2 linked regions of the Homo sapiens genome follow. The protein of the gene in region 1 interacts with the protein of each later gene in a biochemical or structural test. Each region holds a gene or a part of one and is shown in the gene's direction. Other genes may lie near its edges.

The links.
Region 2: of the proteins of MARK4 (region 1) and MAP4, one has a biochemical effect on the other in vitro, tested with the Homo sapiens proteins (one study listed by BioGRID).

What each region holds. Positions count from the first base shown.
Region 1 is NC_000019.10:45,253,580-45,261,712, forward strand, and holds part of MARK4 (MAP/microtubule affinity-regulating kinase 4), read left to right. Parts: intron 1-5,409; coding exon 5,410-5,610; intron 5,611-8,133. UniProt on the Homo sapiens protein: Serine/threonine-protein kinase. Phosphorylates the microtubule-associated protein MAPT/TAU. Also phosphorylates the microtubule-associated proteins MAP2 and MAP4.
Region 2 is NC_000003.12:47,908,417-47,915,982, reverse strand, and holds part of MAP4 (microtubule-associated protein 4), read left to right. Parts: coding exon 1-32; intron 33-1,043; coding exon 1,044-1,166; intron 1,167-3,561; coding exon 3,562-6,945; intron 6,946-7,566. UniProt on the Homo sapiens protein: Non-neuronal microtubule-associated protein. Promotes microtubule assembly.

The sequences.
Region 1 (8,133 bases):
GACAGCCCGTGGATTCTCAGCTCAGGGCTGTTATTGGTTGTTGAGTGAGCCTGCAGATTCACTCCCAGCTTGCAGCCTCAGTTTCCTTATCTCTAAATCGGGTTGATGATGGCCCCCCACTGTTAGGGATGTTTGCAGGAGCCAGCGACGTGATGTGACTAAGGTGCACAGGGCCTGGCATGTGTCGTGGCTGTTGTGGTTATTAGCACTACTTTAATTGTTCAGATAAACTTGGGTTCACATCCTGTTTCTGTCCCTCCCTAGCTGTGTGACCTCGGGCAAGTAACCTTACCTCTCTGAGCCTTGGTTTCCTTGTCTGTTAAGTGGAACGCCTAATGAAGACTTGCTGTTCCCTGGGTTGTTAAGATGCGTGCATGGTGCGGATTTGAGGATGGCTAATCCCCTTTTCTCTCCTCCAACTCTTGTCACTAAGACCTGCCTGTCAGTCCTGGTGGGGAGTCACTTGCCTGCCTCTGGAATGGGAGGTTGCAGCCCCCTCTCCTGTTACCTGGTTACCATGGCTACAGCCACGTGGGGTCATGCTCCCCCACCCCAAGTTCCAGGGCCCCCCACCAGGGGGCCAGCCTCCCCAGGTTCCCTAGCAACAGTCCCGGGTGTTGGGGCGCCAGCCGGGCGGGAGGGAGCCAGGCCAGCTGGTGGTGCAGGCCAATTTTAGCTCCCACCCCCGGCCCCCAGGGGCTTTGTCACCCACTGCCCCAGCTGCCCCTCGCAGGGGTCCCTCAGCCATGCTGCCTTCAGCGTGGTGCCATCCCACCTCCAGCTGGCTGCCCTGGCGCCACCTGACAGGGCTTCTTCTCCAGGTCCTTATCTTGGTGGGGATCGGAGGCCTTATCTCCAGGATCTCCACCTGCCTCCCTGGTCTCTCCTGGGAAGAAGCCTGGGCCTGTGGGGAAGCCTGGCTCAGCACTCAGGAGGAATCAGCAGGCCGGGGTTCGCATCCCAGCACTCTGCTCCATCTGCCCTGTGACCTTGGGGGAGGGACTCCCCCTGCCTGAGCCTGGGTGTCCCCGTCTGAAGACTGCAGATCATAATTGGACCCACATTGGAGGCCAGGGTGAGGGCACGGCAGGCAGTGGCGGACGCGTGGTTAGAGCCCTGGCCGTGGTGGTTGGAACTGCCCAGCTGTGGGGAGGTTGTCTTTCTGCCCCTGTGAATGGACTGTGTGACCTTCACATGGCACCTTCCCTCTCCAAGGCTCAGTTTCTCTGCTGGAACATGGAGTCATTCCCTGGGCTACTGCAGGAATTAAGTGTAGGCGAGTTACCTGTTTACACAGGACTTGGTCCATAGCATGAGCTGCTTTGTAGAAATGGTTCATGACCCAGCGTGGTAGCTCACACCTATAATCCCAGAACTTTGGGAGACCCAGGCAGGAGGATGGCTTGAGCCTGGGAGCTGAAGACTAGCCCGGACAACATAGCAAGACTCCATCTCTACAAAAAAATTTAAAAATCAGCTGTGTGTGGTGGTGCACTCCTGTGGTCCCAGCTACTCAGGAGCCTGAGATGGGAGGATTTGCTTGAACCCAGGCAGTTGAGGCTCCAGTGAGCCTTGATTACACCACTGCACTTCAGCCTGGGTAACAGAGCAAGGCCCTGTCTCAAAAAAAAAAAAAAGGTTCAGGTGTGAGAGGCAGTGTGGTATTGTGACAGAGAAGAGCATCAAGTCTGGTGGAAACTATCGGGCACGGTGGCTCATGCCTGTAATCCCAGCACTTTGGGAGGCCGAGGTGGGCAGATCACCTGAGGTCAGGAGTTCAAGACCAGCCTGGCCAACATGGTGAAACCCCCTCTTTACTAAAAATACAAAAATTAGACGGTTGTGGTGGCGGGCGTCTGTAATCCCAGCCACTCGGGAGGCTGAGGCAGGAGAATTGCTTGAACCCAGGAGGTGGAGGTTGCAGTGAGTTGAGATCGTGCCATTGCACTCCAGCCTGGGCAACAAGAGTGAAACTCTGCCAAAAAAAAAAAAAAAAAAAAAAAATACTGGTGGAAACTGTTTGGGTTCAGATCGTGGGTCCGGGTCTCACTTTCCCCACCTGTAAAATGGAGATAATAGTGTGGTAATGGCCTCATATTGCATCAATGACCAGCATTAATTAAACGTTAGTTGTCGTTGCTATCAAGTGGCCCGGCAGTGTCTTTCTCAGAGACTTGGGCCCCCAGCCCATCAGCCTCTTGGCCTTTCTTCCTCCCCTCCTGTTGTCCTCCTGCTTCCCACTCCCAGCCGGAAGGGCACAGGCAGAACTGCCTTGGCGGGAGGCCTCAGGCACCCTGAGCCCCAGCCCTGAAAGGGAGACAGTCCCTGGGGCTTCCAATCAGGCCAGGGCAGCTCAGAGCAGGCAGGTGACCTGCGGGGGAGAGAGGCCAGGGAGGGACAGGACAGTAGGAACAGAACATCAGGAGGAGAGAAGCCATGGTGTGGGAGACAGCAAGTCAGGGCGCTTCTCAAGCCCTGGGTGTTTCAGGGGGTGGCAGAAGCAACAGTGTTTCCCATGGAAGGAGGATAACAGGGATTCAACCAGGTCTCAGGGCCAGTGAAAGACTTGGTTACCCTGCAGGGGGTGGTGGCTCAGGCCTGTAATGCCAGCACTTTGGGAGGCCGAGGTGGGTGGATCACCTGAGGTCAGGAGTTCAAGACCAACCTGGCCAACATGATGAAACCTCGTCTCTACTAAAAATACAAAATTAACCAGGTGTGGTGGCACATGCCTGTAATCCCAGCTACTCGGGAAAGCTGAGGCAGGAGAATCGCTTGAACCCAGGAGGCAGAGGTTGCAGTGAGCCAGACTGGGCCACTGCACTCCAGCTTGGGCAACAAGAGTGAAACTCTGTGTCAAAAAGAAAAAAAATAAGACTTGGTTACAATGTTTGGAGTCCAATCTGGGGTAACAGTGATTGGAATCAAATGTTAGGGGCATTCCACTGGGAATCAAATGTTGACATTTGGGTTTGAAGTAGAATTTGGGGGCTGGAGAGGGGACAGTTGATGGGTAAAATAGCAAGTCAGGACCAGTGGTGGTGGAGGAGGAGCCTCGAGTCCAGATTGAGGTCAGCGTTGATTGGGGTTGAGGGCAGCCTCATTTAGGGCAAAATATTGTAGAGTTGATCCAGGCTCCAGGACAGGCATATCCTGCTTTTTCGCACTTTGCCTTATTGAGCTTCACAGATACAGTGTTTTCTACAAATTGAAGGTTTCTGACGACCCTGTGTTGAGCAAGCCTGTAGGCTCCATTTTTCCAACAGCCTGTGCACAATTTGTGTCTCTGTCACATTTTGGTAATTCACACAGTATTTCAAACTTTTTCATCATTATTATAATAGCTGTTATGGTGATCTGATATCAGTGATGTTTTTCCTCTTTTTTTTTTAGAGACAGGGTCTTGCTCTGTTGCCCAGGCTGGAGTGCAGTGGCATGATCATAGCTCACTGCAGCCTTAACCTCCTGGGGCTCAAGCGATCTTCCCATCTCAGCCCCCTGAGTAGCTGGGACTATAGGCATATGCCACCATGCCTAGCTAATTTTTTTTTTTTAAGTTTTTCTAGAGATGGGTGTCTCGCTTCATTGCCCAGGCTGGTCTCAAACTCCCTGGCTTCAAGCGATCCTCCCGCCTTGTCAATGATTTTGTTTTATTGTGATTCACTGAAGGTTCAGATGATTGTTAGCATCTTTTAACAAGAAAGTATTATAAAATTAAAGTATGTACATTGTTTTTATAGCTGTAATGCTATTATTGCACACTCAGTAGACTGCAGTATGATGTAAACACAATTTTTCTTTCTCTTTTTTTTTTTTTTTTTTGAGATGGAGTCCCACTCTGTCACCCAGACTGTAGTGCAGTGGCGCGATCTCAGCTCACTGCAACCTCTGCCTCCCTGGTTCAAGTGATTCTCCTGCCTCAGCCTCCTGAGTAGCTGGGATTACAGGTGCGCGTCACCATGTCCGGCTAATTTTTGTATTTTTAGTAGAGACGGGGTTTCCCCGTGTTGGCCAGGCAAGTTTCACACTCTGACCTCAGGTGATCCACCTGCCTTGGCCTCCCAAAGTGCTGGGATTACAGGCGTGAGCCACCTCGCCTGGCCCATAATATTTTTTTTTTTTTTTTTTGAGACAGAGTCTCGCTCTGTCACCCAGGCTGGAGTGCAGCGGCGCGATCTCGGCTCACTGCAAGCTCCACCTCCTGGGTTCATGCCATTCTCCTGCCTCAGCCTCCCAAGTAGCTGGGACTACAGGCGCATACTGCCACGCCTGGCTAATTTTTTGTATTTTTAGTAGAGATGGGGTTTCACCTTGTTAGCCAGGATGGTCTCAATCTCCTGACCTCGTGATCTGCCCGCCTCGGCCTCCCAAAGTGCTGGAATTACAGGTGTGAGCCACCATGCCTGGCCTTTTTTTTTTTTTTTTAGACCAAGTCTCACTCTATCACTCTGGCTAGAGTGCAGTAGAGCGATCTCGGCTCACTACAACCTCTGCCTCCCAGGTTCAAGTGATTCTCCTGCCTCAGCCTCCAGAGTAGCTGGGATTACAGGCGTGTGCCAATGCCTGGCTAATTTTTGTATTTTTTTAGTAGAGATGGGGTTTTCACCATATTGGCCAGGCTGGTCTCGAACTCCTGACCTCATGATCCACCCACCTCAGCCTCCCAAAGTGCTGGGATTACAGGCCTGAGCCACTGCACCTGGCCACCTGGCCCATAATTTTTATATGCACTGGGAATCCAAAAGATTCATGTGCATTGCTTTTTTGCAGTATTTGCTTTATTGCGGTGGTCTGGAACCAAACTTGCGATATCTCTGAGGTATGTGTGTAATTAGAAAAGGAGGTTGGGGCTGGATGCGGTGGCTCACATCTGTAATCCGTACAGCCGAGGCAGGTGGATCACCTGAGTCAGGGGTTTGAGACCAGCTTAGTCAACATGGTGAAACCCCGTCTCTACTAAAAATACAGAAATTAGCCAGGCATGATGGTGCACGCCTGTAATCCCAGCTGCTCGGGAGGCTGAGGCAGGAAAATGGCTTGAACCCGGGAGGCAGAGGTTGCAGTGAGCTGAGATCGTGCCACTGCACTCCAGCCTGGGTGACAGAGGAAGACTCCATCCGAAGGAAAAAAAAAAAGACAAGGAGGTTGGGGGTAGTCAGACTGCAGTGAGGGTTGAAGAAGGGGTGTGATGCCTGGGGCCCTGAATGTTGCAGATTTGGAGGACATGGGGGCTTTTGTTCCTGGAGGCGTCTTTTTGTAGAGAAAGATGAAGGATGCTTGGCTCTCTGGGGCCTGAGTTTGAAAAGGGCCACGGAGGGGCCGGTAGCCAGGCCTCAAGTTAAGTGCACTAGCCCACGGGTTCCACGGAAGGTGGGATTGGATAGCTCATGCTCCATCTCCCCCGCCCAGCATGGCACCTTGGGCAGTGGCCGCTCCTCGGACAAAGGCCCGTCCTGGTCCAGCCGCTCACTGGGTGCCCGTTGCCGGAACTCCATCGCCTCCTGTCCCGAGGAGCAGCCCCACGTGGGCAACTACCGCCTGCTGAGGACCATTGGGAAGGGCAACTTTGCCAAAGTCAAGCTGGCTCGGCACATCCTCACTGGTCGGGAGGTGAGTATGGGCACAGGGTGGGGCTCGGGGCAGGTCCCTGTGGGACCAGGTCTTCGGTGTATGTTGATAGAGGTCAGGATTGGCCCTGGGTTTGCTTTGTGGCCTCAGGTAAGTTCCCGACTCTCTATGGGACAGGTCACAATATCTCTGATGTTCCCAGAACCACCCCCATGGGAAAAGAGAACTAATTTCATGTATCCCTGAAATTGCCGGGAAATCTCAGATCACAGGCAGTCCAATGTGTGCGTTGCTAAGGATGCATGTGGCTTTTGTAGATAAACCTGAGCTGTGGCCGGATGCATTGGCTCACACGTGTAATCCCAGCACTTTGAAAGGCCAAGGCAGGAGGATTCCTTGAGCTCAGGAGTTTGAGACCAGCCTGGGCAACATAGCAACACTTTGTCTCCACTAAAAAATAAGTAAAATTTTTTAAAAATTAGCTGGGTGCGGTGGTGTGTGCCTGTGGTCCCAGCTACTTGGGAGGCTGAGGCGGGAGGATCGCTTGAGCTCAGGAGTTTGAGGCTGCGGTGAGGTGTGACCTCACCACTGCACTCCAGCCTGGGTAACAGAGTGAGACCCTATCTCAAAAAATAAAAATAAAATAAAATAAAAGAGGGCTGGGCATGGTGGCTTACGCCTGTAATCCCAGTACTTTGGGAAGCTGAGGCAGGTGGATTGCTTGAGGTCAGGAGTTCGAGACCAGCCTGACCAACATGATGAAACCCTGTCTCTATTAAAAATACAAAAATTAGCTGGGCGTGGTGGCACATGCCTATAATCTCAGCTGCTCAGTAGGCTGAGCCAGGAGAATCGCTTGAACCCAGGAGGCGGAGGTTTCAGTGAGCCGAGATCATGCCACTGCACTCCAGCCTGGGTGACAGAGTGAGACTCTGTCTCAAAAAAATAAAAAAATTAAAAGGCCGTGCGCGGTGGCTCACTCCTATAGTCCCAGCACTTTGGGAGGCCAAGGCAAGTGGATCACCTGAGGTCAGGAGTTCAAGACCAGCCTGGCCAACATGGTAAAACCCCGTCTCTACTAAAAATATAAAGATTAGCTTGGTGTGATAGCAGGCACCTGTAATTTCAGCTACTTGGGAGGCTGAGGCAGGAGAATTGCTTGAGCCCAGGAGGCAGAGGTTGCAATGAGCCAAGATGGTGCCACTGTATTCCGCCTGGGCAACAAGACCGAGACTTTGTCTCAAAAAAAAAAAAAAAAAATTGGCCGAGTGCAGTGGCTCATACCAACAAACACAGCGCTTTGGGAGGCCGAGGCAGGTGGATCACCTGAGGTCAGGAGTTCGAGACCAGCCTGGCCAACATGGCAAAACCCCATCTTTACTGAAAAAAAAATACAAAAATTAGCTGGGTGTGGTGGTGCGTGCCTGTAAGCCCAGCTACCTGGAAGGCTGAGGCAGGAGAATCACTGGAACCCAGGAGGCGAAGGCCGCAGTGAGCCGAGATTGTGCCACTGCACTCCAGCCTGGGTGACAGAGCAAGACCATCTCAAAAAATAAATAAATAAATAAATAAATAGTAAATAAATTAAAAATAAAAAATAAATAAACCTGAGCTGCCTCTCTGTTTTAAGGGTGGACTTTGGTTCCTTGAAATCTTCCTGTGATCTGGAGAACACAGCAGGTTTATTTATGTTGTATTCTCAGTTACACACAGCCTCACTCTCCCCACCACCTCTTCCAGAGCAGGCATCTGTGCTGAGTATGGTGACATTATTGCAAAAAGGGCCCACACAGGCTTTGCAGCCTAGATATGAGGTCTCTAACTCACTTAGAGGAAAAGGAATGGTGGGTGATTTCATGATTTCCCCACCCCTCCTTCAACTTCAGAGAAATGATTGGAATGAATTATCCTGCCTTGGATGGACTCTCCCCTGCCCTCACGCTGTCTACACCATACACGCAAAAGACACCGGGCCCCGATGGTCTTACAGGCAAATCCTACCAGATGTTCACATTTTATGCCAGTTCTTCCAGAGACTAAAGAAAGAACTGCCACTGCCTGACTGATTTTTACGCGCTAGTTTGTCCTTAAGAGCAAAACCAGACAAGAAACAAAATTACAGGCCAATCTGGTGAACATAGGTATAAAAATCTTATACAAAATATTAACAAACAGAACCTGGCAAATCAATTAAAGAAAGCTGTGTGATGACGAAACTGGCTTTATCTCAGGAATGCAAAGTTCTTTTCCCTTTGACAATTTATTCATGTACTTCACCACATTCTCAGATTAAAGAAGAGAAACCATATGATCGTCTCAATACTGGCATAAAAAGTGTTTGATAAAATTTTTAAAAACACATTCGTGAGAATATGAGGAAAGCTAAGGGGCTCTCTCTTCCATGAAGAACACATGGTTCCCTATATGTGGATCTGGTTCCAGGGGTTTCTGAGAGGGACCTGGCCCCATCTCTGTTTTAAAAATAAAATAAAAGTTTTACTGCAGACTGGGTGCGGTGGCTCATGCCTGTAATCCCAGCACCTTGGGAGGCTCAGGCAGGCGGAT
Region 2 (7,566 bases), on another chromosome or scaffold:
GTCAGCTGCACCTACTTTCATGATTTCACCAGGTACGTGCTTGTGCTTATTCTCAGTATTTCTCTCTACCAGGTTGTAGTCTCGAGAAGACTAAGGACAAACATCATGCCAGGTAAAGTACAGACAGTCACACTGTACTTTGCAAGTTTATTCATACTCCTGCTCTCCTAGACAACTCTTTCCCGCCTTTACCCTCCTCCCACCTCCAACACCTTTTCTATGTTCATTCTCTGCTGATTGTCCTGTTTTTCTTGCAGATAAGTCAAGCAATAAAATAGAACATCGACAAACTTCTATTCCATTATCTACCCAACTACTTGTATCTGTATCCATGGTCTCTGCTTATGAAAGTTCCCGTTTTTATAAGTAAACTGTTCCTGCTCCTAATTAAGACCAACCTCTCCTCATTTTGCCCTAGATTCCATCTCCTCTTTCCTACTCGATATATTGCCCCATGTATTCTTCCCTTTTTTGCCCCTCATACCAATTTAAATCTTTTTTCATTGGATCATTCCCACCCATTTAACAAACGTTTGTTATTTTTCCCATCTTAAAAAACGAAACATTGACCGGGCATGGTGGCTCACACCTGTAATCCCAGCACTTTGGGCGGCCGAGGTGGGCGGATCACCTGAGGTCGGGAATTCAAGACTAGCCTGACCAACATGGAGAAACCCCGTCTCCACTAAAAATACAAAATTAGCCGGGCATGGTGGCGCATGCCTGTAATCCCAGCTACTCGGGAGGCTGAGGCAGGAGAATCACTTGAACCTGGGAGACGGAGGTTGTGGTGAGCCGAGATCGCACCATTGCACTCCAGCCTGAGCAACAAAGAGTGAAAAACTCCATCTCAAAAAAAAAAAAAAAAGTAACATAACTAGACATACCTTCCCAACTTCAGCTTCCAACTACCACTTCACTCCTTTGCTGCCCCTTGTAGGAGAACTCCTCAGAAACTAATCCCATATCCAATTTCTGGCAGATGGAAAATAGCTGAAATCATGCTTCTCTGAAACGTGTGTGGCTTTTGTTATTACCTTTAGAAACCGTCACAGGAACGGGGAAAAAGTGCAGCTTGCCGGCCGAGGAGGATTCTGTGTTAGAAAAACTAGGGGAAAGGAAACCATGCAACAGTCAACCTTCTGAGCTTTCTTCAGAGACCTCAGGTAAGTTAGGAAAACAAAATGAACTCTTTGAAACAAATTAGGGGCGATAGAGTAGTGATGGTAGACATTGTCTCTAGTTCCCTGTTGTATGGTGGTAATCAGCAGTATAGTTTATGAAGTCAATTCTCTTAGACAGATTTTATCTGGTTTAGACAGAATGTCAGCTTGTTATATCTTTAAAAATTACTACTACAGCAAATCAGGATACCTAATTTTTTTTTTCTCCACTGTTTTTTTTGTTGTTGTTGTCGTTGTTTTTTTTTTTTTGAGACAGAGTCTCACTCTGTCGCCCAGGCTGGCGTGCAATGGCGTGATCTTGGCTCACTGCATCCTCCACCTACTGGGTTCAAGCGATTCTCCTGCCTCAGCCTCCTGAGTAGCTGGGATTACAGGCGCCTGCCACCATGCCCGGCTAATTTTTAGTAGAGATGAGGTTTCACCATGTTGGCCAGGCTGGTCTCAAACTCCTGACCTCTGGTGATCTGCCCACCTCAGCCTCCCAAAGTGTTGGGATTACAGGCGTGAGCGACCGTGCCTGGCCTTCTCCACTGTTTTCATAGTGAAGAAAGGACACCCAAATTTTGATCTGGTTCAGCTATTCACTATTCTATCCTGTGTGGTCTTAAGCAAGTTACATAACTTGCCTATATCTCAGTTTACTTAGCTATAATATAAATTAATTGGTCAAATGTTCTCTAAAGTCTTACTAGTTACAGTGTTCCATGGCCCAACAGCATCTACATTACCTGAGAGGCTGGTAGAAATGCAGAATCTTGGGCTCTACCTTAGGCCTTTGTAATTATTATCTGCATTTTAATTAGATCCCCAGATAATTCTAATTTTCATTAAACTTTGAGAGGTACTGCTCTAAGATACTTTCCAATTTAAAGTTTGATTATTCAGTGAATTTGAAGATTACCTGTTTTTAATAACCCAGAAGCATATGTATATGATTATCAACTTGATTTTCTGTTTACTTTTCTGTGACTATGATTGGAATGTGGACATCCTGACATATGGGACATAAGGGCCCATGACTTATTTCACTTAGAATCTCTAATGCTTTGCACACTACCTAGCACAAGACTAGAGCTTAAATAAATGTGTGATTTTTTTTTTAAATGTTGTTTTACTGACTCAACAAATCAGTAAAGATTTATCAAGTGCTTATGGTATACAAAATACACCATGTTAAGGCATATAGATATTTAAGTCCCCGTCCTTGCCCCCTGAATTATTATATTATAACCTGAATGAAGAGATAAGTTCTCAGGCATGAACTCTGAAACCCAAGATTTACATAATAATTGAATAAAATAGTATAAAAGATGGCACTGAATAGCTGCTGATTAATTGCTGAATTAAATGTTATAAATACTGGGGGATACTATAGCCTAGCAATTTTTTGAGCGATGCAATAATTAACCTGAGATATTAAACAAAGGCTAGGATTTAGAGGATATTGGAGGGGTAAGGACAAGAATGAAATCCACTATTTACATATTATAATATTCTTGGAAATCAATTTATTGGGTCAGACTTGACAGGAGCTGGCATATACCTGCTCTTAATGAGACTCTTGCCAGGATCTTGGATCCATATTATATTAACTGGGAGGAAGGTTAGACCAGATCACCTGCTGAAACTCTTCCAAAGGTACTCATCTTAATTGTTAAAATTAATTATCCTACTTAACATTATATATATTTCTCTGTCTTTTGGGAAGTACATTTAGGAGCAGAATGTTGAAATTTAACATATTTGTCTTTCAAAGTAGGATGCTCTGGTTCTGGAATCATGAGAATTTTTCTCTGACCAAAATGTGGATTCAGTATATTTTGTGTGTGTGCGTGAAGTGACTTAAGTCTGGCCTTCTGATCTAGTTCCCAGAATCTGTCTGGTTTGTTTGACAAGTATTAGTTTAATATTGGTGACCTAGTCTTAGAATTATAAATTTTGTCCAAAATCATGTATATTTAACTGAAGCAATTAATAAATTTCACCAAAAAGAGGCAAGCACTAAGAATGACCAATATAAATCAGATGAGATTTACAGGCAGTAAGTGCTTATTTTTAGAGGTTAAAAGATGTGAAATGTTTCATTTTTAAAAGTTCAATCCTGCTACTTCTGAAATTTCAAATATTTTATAAATGTTTGAAAACAATCTTTACCTGAGATGATGATCTGTTAAATATTTTTGCTAGCGCCAGTTAAAAGTGAGAAATGTTTTAGAAAAGACTGTTTTCCTGAGCAAATTACAGTAAGTACTATATGTATTAGTGAAAATAGCCTCCTTAAATTAGTCATTTATATGGTCTGGTTTTTTTGTTTGTTTGTTTGTTTTTTGTTGTTTTTAAGAAACAATAACGAGGAGTTTTTTGTTTGGAATTTTAGCCAACTTCATGTATTGCGGTACCCCTCCCACACAAGCCAAACAAGTTTGCAGACCCAGTGACCGCAGGTCAACCCGGCCCAAGCCTGCCAGGGTCCCTCCTGAGCTGCTGGGAGGCTCTCCTCCATGGAAGACTCTTGATCACAGGCTGGGCCACTGCTCTTTGTCTGAGTCAGGTTGGGTCTCTGGTTCATCCTCCTGTGGTGGGCCTGGGAACCAAAGAAAAAGTATTCATGTTGACTCACTTGAACCCCAGAGGGATCTTGGCAGGGAGGCCTGGGATATAGAAAGCACACCAATAATGATGAAGAAAAAGAAGAAGAAACCAAAGCAAAAGAGATATTCTCAACCACGGGCTGGAGGACCTTCGGATGATGACAATGCAGATAAGCCTAAAGGTCATCCATTTGCAGCTGACACACAAAAATCAGGTGTTCTCCCCAGCCAGCCTACCACTATGGGTACAGAATATGGACTTGTATCTGGAGAAAACTTGAAAAGGGAATGTTTAGTTAACTCCAGTGCAGCCAGACTGGTAGCTGAGAACTTTGTCTCAGAGAGTCTCAGAATTCCTTTATATCCTTCTGAAGAAGCCCCCAAAACTGCAATAAGTTCTCAGTCTAAGCTGAGAGTAGAGGAAGAGAGCAAAAGTAACAAGTCAGTACTACAAAACCAAGACAAGAAATTGCTGAAGCAACATGAATACAAACCACAGCCTGCACCCCACCTGAAGACTCCTGTAGATAAAAGCCAGTCAGTAGGCCCTCTCAATCTGAAAGGACCCCTAGCAGAAGTTTCTGCATACAATGTAGAAACCCCTTTGGATATCAGACTTAAAGAGGGTTGCTCTCCTTTCTTGGACCAAGAGGTTATGGGTGTAGTTTCAAAACCCACAGCAGCAAAAGAAATACCAAATTTGGTACCCACTTTGATAGCAAGTAATCCATTAGAATGTAATCTAAAAGAAGGGAATAATGAAAGTAAAATGACTAAACTGCAGAATGTCAAACTGAAGGAGTTTCCTGAAGGAGCTGAAGAGGATAAAGAACTAAAAAAGGAAGCTTTTCCCAACGAAAGACAAGAGATCAGCATCTTTACTTCTGAGCAGCTGCAGGGCCAAGTGTTGGTACAGGTCCCTGGGGTAGAGAATGAACCATTTAAGAGAATGGCAGGTGATGGCAAAAGCAGGAAGGGAAGGGGAAGTTCTGGGAAAATGAGAACAGATTCTGGGAAGGTAAAAGCAAAATCTGAGCTGCCATTTCTTCTGGACAGCCAGAAGGACGGAAGGGCTGTTCTCATACCGAGTGAGCCAGTCTCTAAAACTGAAGGAATGACTACTCAGGATAAGAGTGAGGAGCTGGGGCTGAATTCTTCAAAGCAACCAGGCACTAAGGCTGATCTCACGGAGGCAGTGGTGATGGGGGAGCCTAAAGAGATGACTCAGCCTAAGGTGGCAGGCACCATGCAGGCATTGATTCCTTTGGAAAGTGGATCAGGCATGACTCAGACTTCTGGTGTTAGCACAGAAACAGGAGATGTAGTCAAAGATATGGGTGTCAATAACCAGAGCAAGGAAGGAAGGTGTCCATGGAAGGATCATGAGGCAGCTCCCTGGATTTCTGAAAAGCCTAAAAAGAGAGGCAATGAAGGCAAAAGCAAAAAGTTTAAAAATAATTATTCCACACAGCCTGCTAGAATGGAGAGGAAGGAAGAAATCCTTAACCCACCTTTTGAAGGGAAGGATGGAGATACTGGTAGTATTCCCCATAAAAGCAAGGAAATAGGATTTACTTTCCCCAAAATGCATGATTCTTCGTTCTCACATACACCAGATACACCCACAGTGGAAGCAGTTGACAGGAAGGGTGGAAATTTTCAGGTTAATTTTGTTGAGCTTGGGACTCTTGGGGAAAACAAGATAAGCACAGTCAAGGCTTCTACTGTTACTGAACCACCTGCCAAGGTGACAGATGTGAGCTGCCAAGAGCAAATCCAGGGGGCAGGATTTGTTCCTTCAGTAGTATCTGAGGAGAATAAGACAGATGCAGCCAATAGATACACTGCAGTGGCTGACAAACCAAGTAAAAGGAGTAATGATGGAAAAAGTAAAAAGGTTAAAAATAGTTCTCCTGAGAAGCACATTCTGGAGAATAAGATAGATGCAACAAAAATACATGTTCCCATGGAAACCACAGGGGACCAGGGAATTGAAGGAATGGCCTATATGGACGAAAATAGAAATATTACATTTACCTGTCCCAGAACACCATCAGAGCTGATAAATAAATCATCTCCTCTAGAGGTTCTGGAATCAGCAGCCTGTGAAAAACTGCCCACTCCTACTCCTCAAGTAGTAAAGGAAGGTGATTCCTTTCCAGATACCTTGGCAAAAAATGGGCAAGAGATAGCCCCAGCCCAGATTTCCAAATCATTAATGGTAGATAACTACACCAAAGATGGAGTCCCAGGTCAAGAAAGACCCAAGGGTCCCTCTGCTGTTGTGCCCTCTACAAGCACAGGAGGAGTTGCTCTACCTATTACAACAGCCATAGAAACAGTTAACATTCATGGAGATCACTCTCTTAAGAATAAAGCTGAGCTTGCTGATTCCATGAAAAATGAAGCAGGGATCGATGAAGGGCATGTGATAGGAGAATCTGAGTCAGTGCACAGTGGTGCGTCTAAGCATTCAGTAGAGAAAGTCACAGAGCTAGCAAAAGGTCACCTCCTTCCTGGAGTGCCAGTAGAAGACCAGAGCCTACCAGGAGAGGCCAGAGCCCTAGAAGGATATGCAGATAGAGGTAATTTCCCAGCACATCCAGTGAATGAAGAGAAAGAGACTAAAGAAGGGTCTGTTGCAGTTCAGATTCCTGACTTACTGGAAGACAAAGCACAAAAGCTCAGTTTTTGTGAGGACCAAAATGCTCAAGATAGAAATTCCAAAGGTTCAGATAGTTTGAATAAGAAGGTAGATCTGACTCTTTTGTCTCCAAAAAGTGAAAATGATAAATTGAAAGAAATTAGTCTGGCTTGTAAAATCACGGAATTGGAAAGCGTTTCCTTGCCAACACCAGAAATCCAGTCAGATTTCTTACATAGCAAAGTCGAAGCTCCTCCTTCAGAGGTGGCGGATACGTTAGTAATAATGACTGCTTCCAAGGGTGTTCGACTCCCAGAACCCAAAGATAAGATTTTGGAGACACCTCAGAAAATGACAGAAAAATCTGAATCAAAGACACCAGGAGAAGGGAAAAAGGAAGATAAAAGCAGAATGGCAGAACCAATGAAAGGCTACATGAGACCCACCAAGTCCCGAGGACTTACTCCACTTTTGCCAAAGTCTACAATCCAGGAACAAGAGAGACATAAGCAACTGAAGTCCGCTGGTATGAACCTGCCATGGGGAAATGTGTGTGCTTGTGGCTTTTGAGTCAGCATCAGAAAGGCAAAGAGCTTGTGTCTTGGCTCCATCCAGACTCTAATCATCCTTGTTAATCATTGGTTTGTTGGCATGAAACCTATAACTGCTACGGTGTGTTTTCTGCAGCCAATGTGTTCCTTGTGTCCTGCTTGAGGAGGCTGGTAACTTGGTTGCATGCCTTTTTTACCCAGCACTGAACGTTGAATTTTAGGGGAAGTTGAATTTTCAATGAATTGTCTAACAAAAGACCTATCATCATCCATTTCTTAATTTTTTTAAAATTGTGCCTCCTATGTATCAAGTTTACAGCTAAATTTTAATCATTACTTGGTATAAGGATTCACAGGAGGAAAGAAAATATTTCATGTCTAGCTATGTGCATGAGATTTTTTTCAATTTATATGTAGCTTGTGCTGGTGGGACTAAATATCCAAACTGCTTTTAGGTTAAATGAAATCAGTCCACCTCCTTATGAGGAAATGGTGGCCTCAAACCAGCATTGGTAGGCACCGATTTATTTGTGTTTCTAGTAATGGGAAATGATCTCTCAATGATACAGATACATTTTTTGACCAGTTTGTTGCTT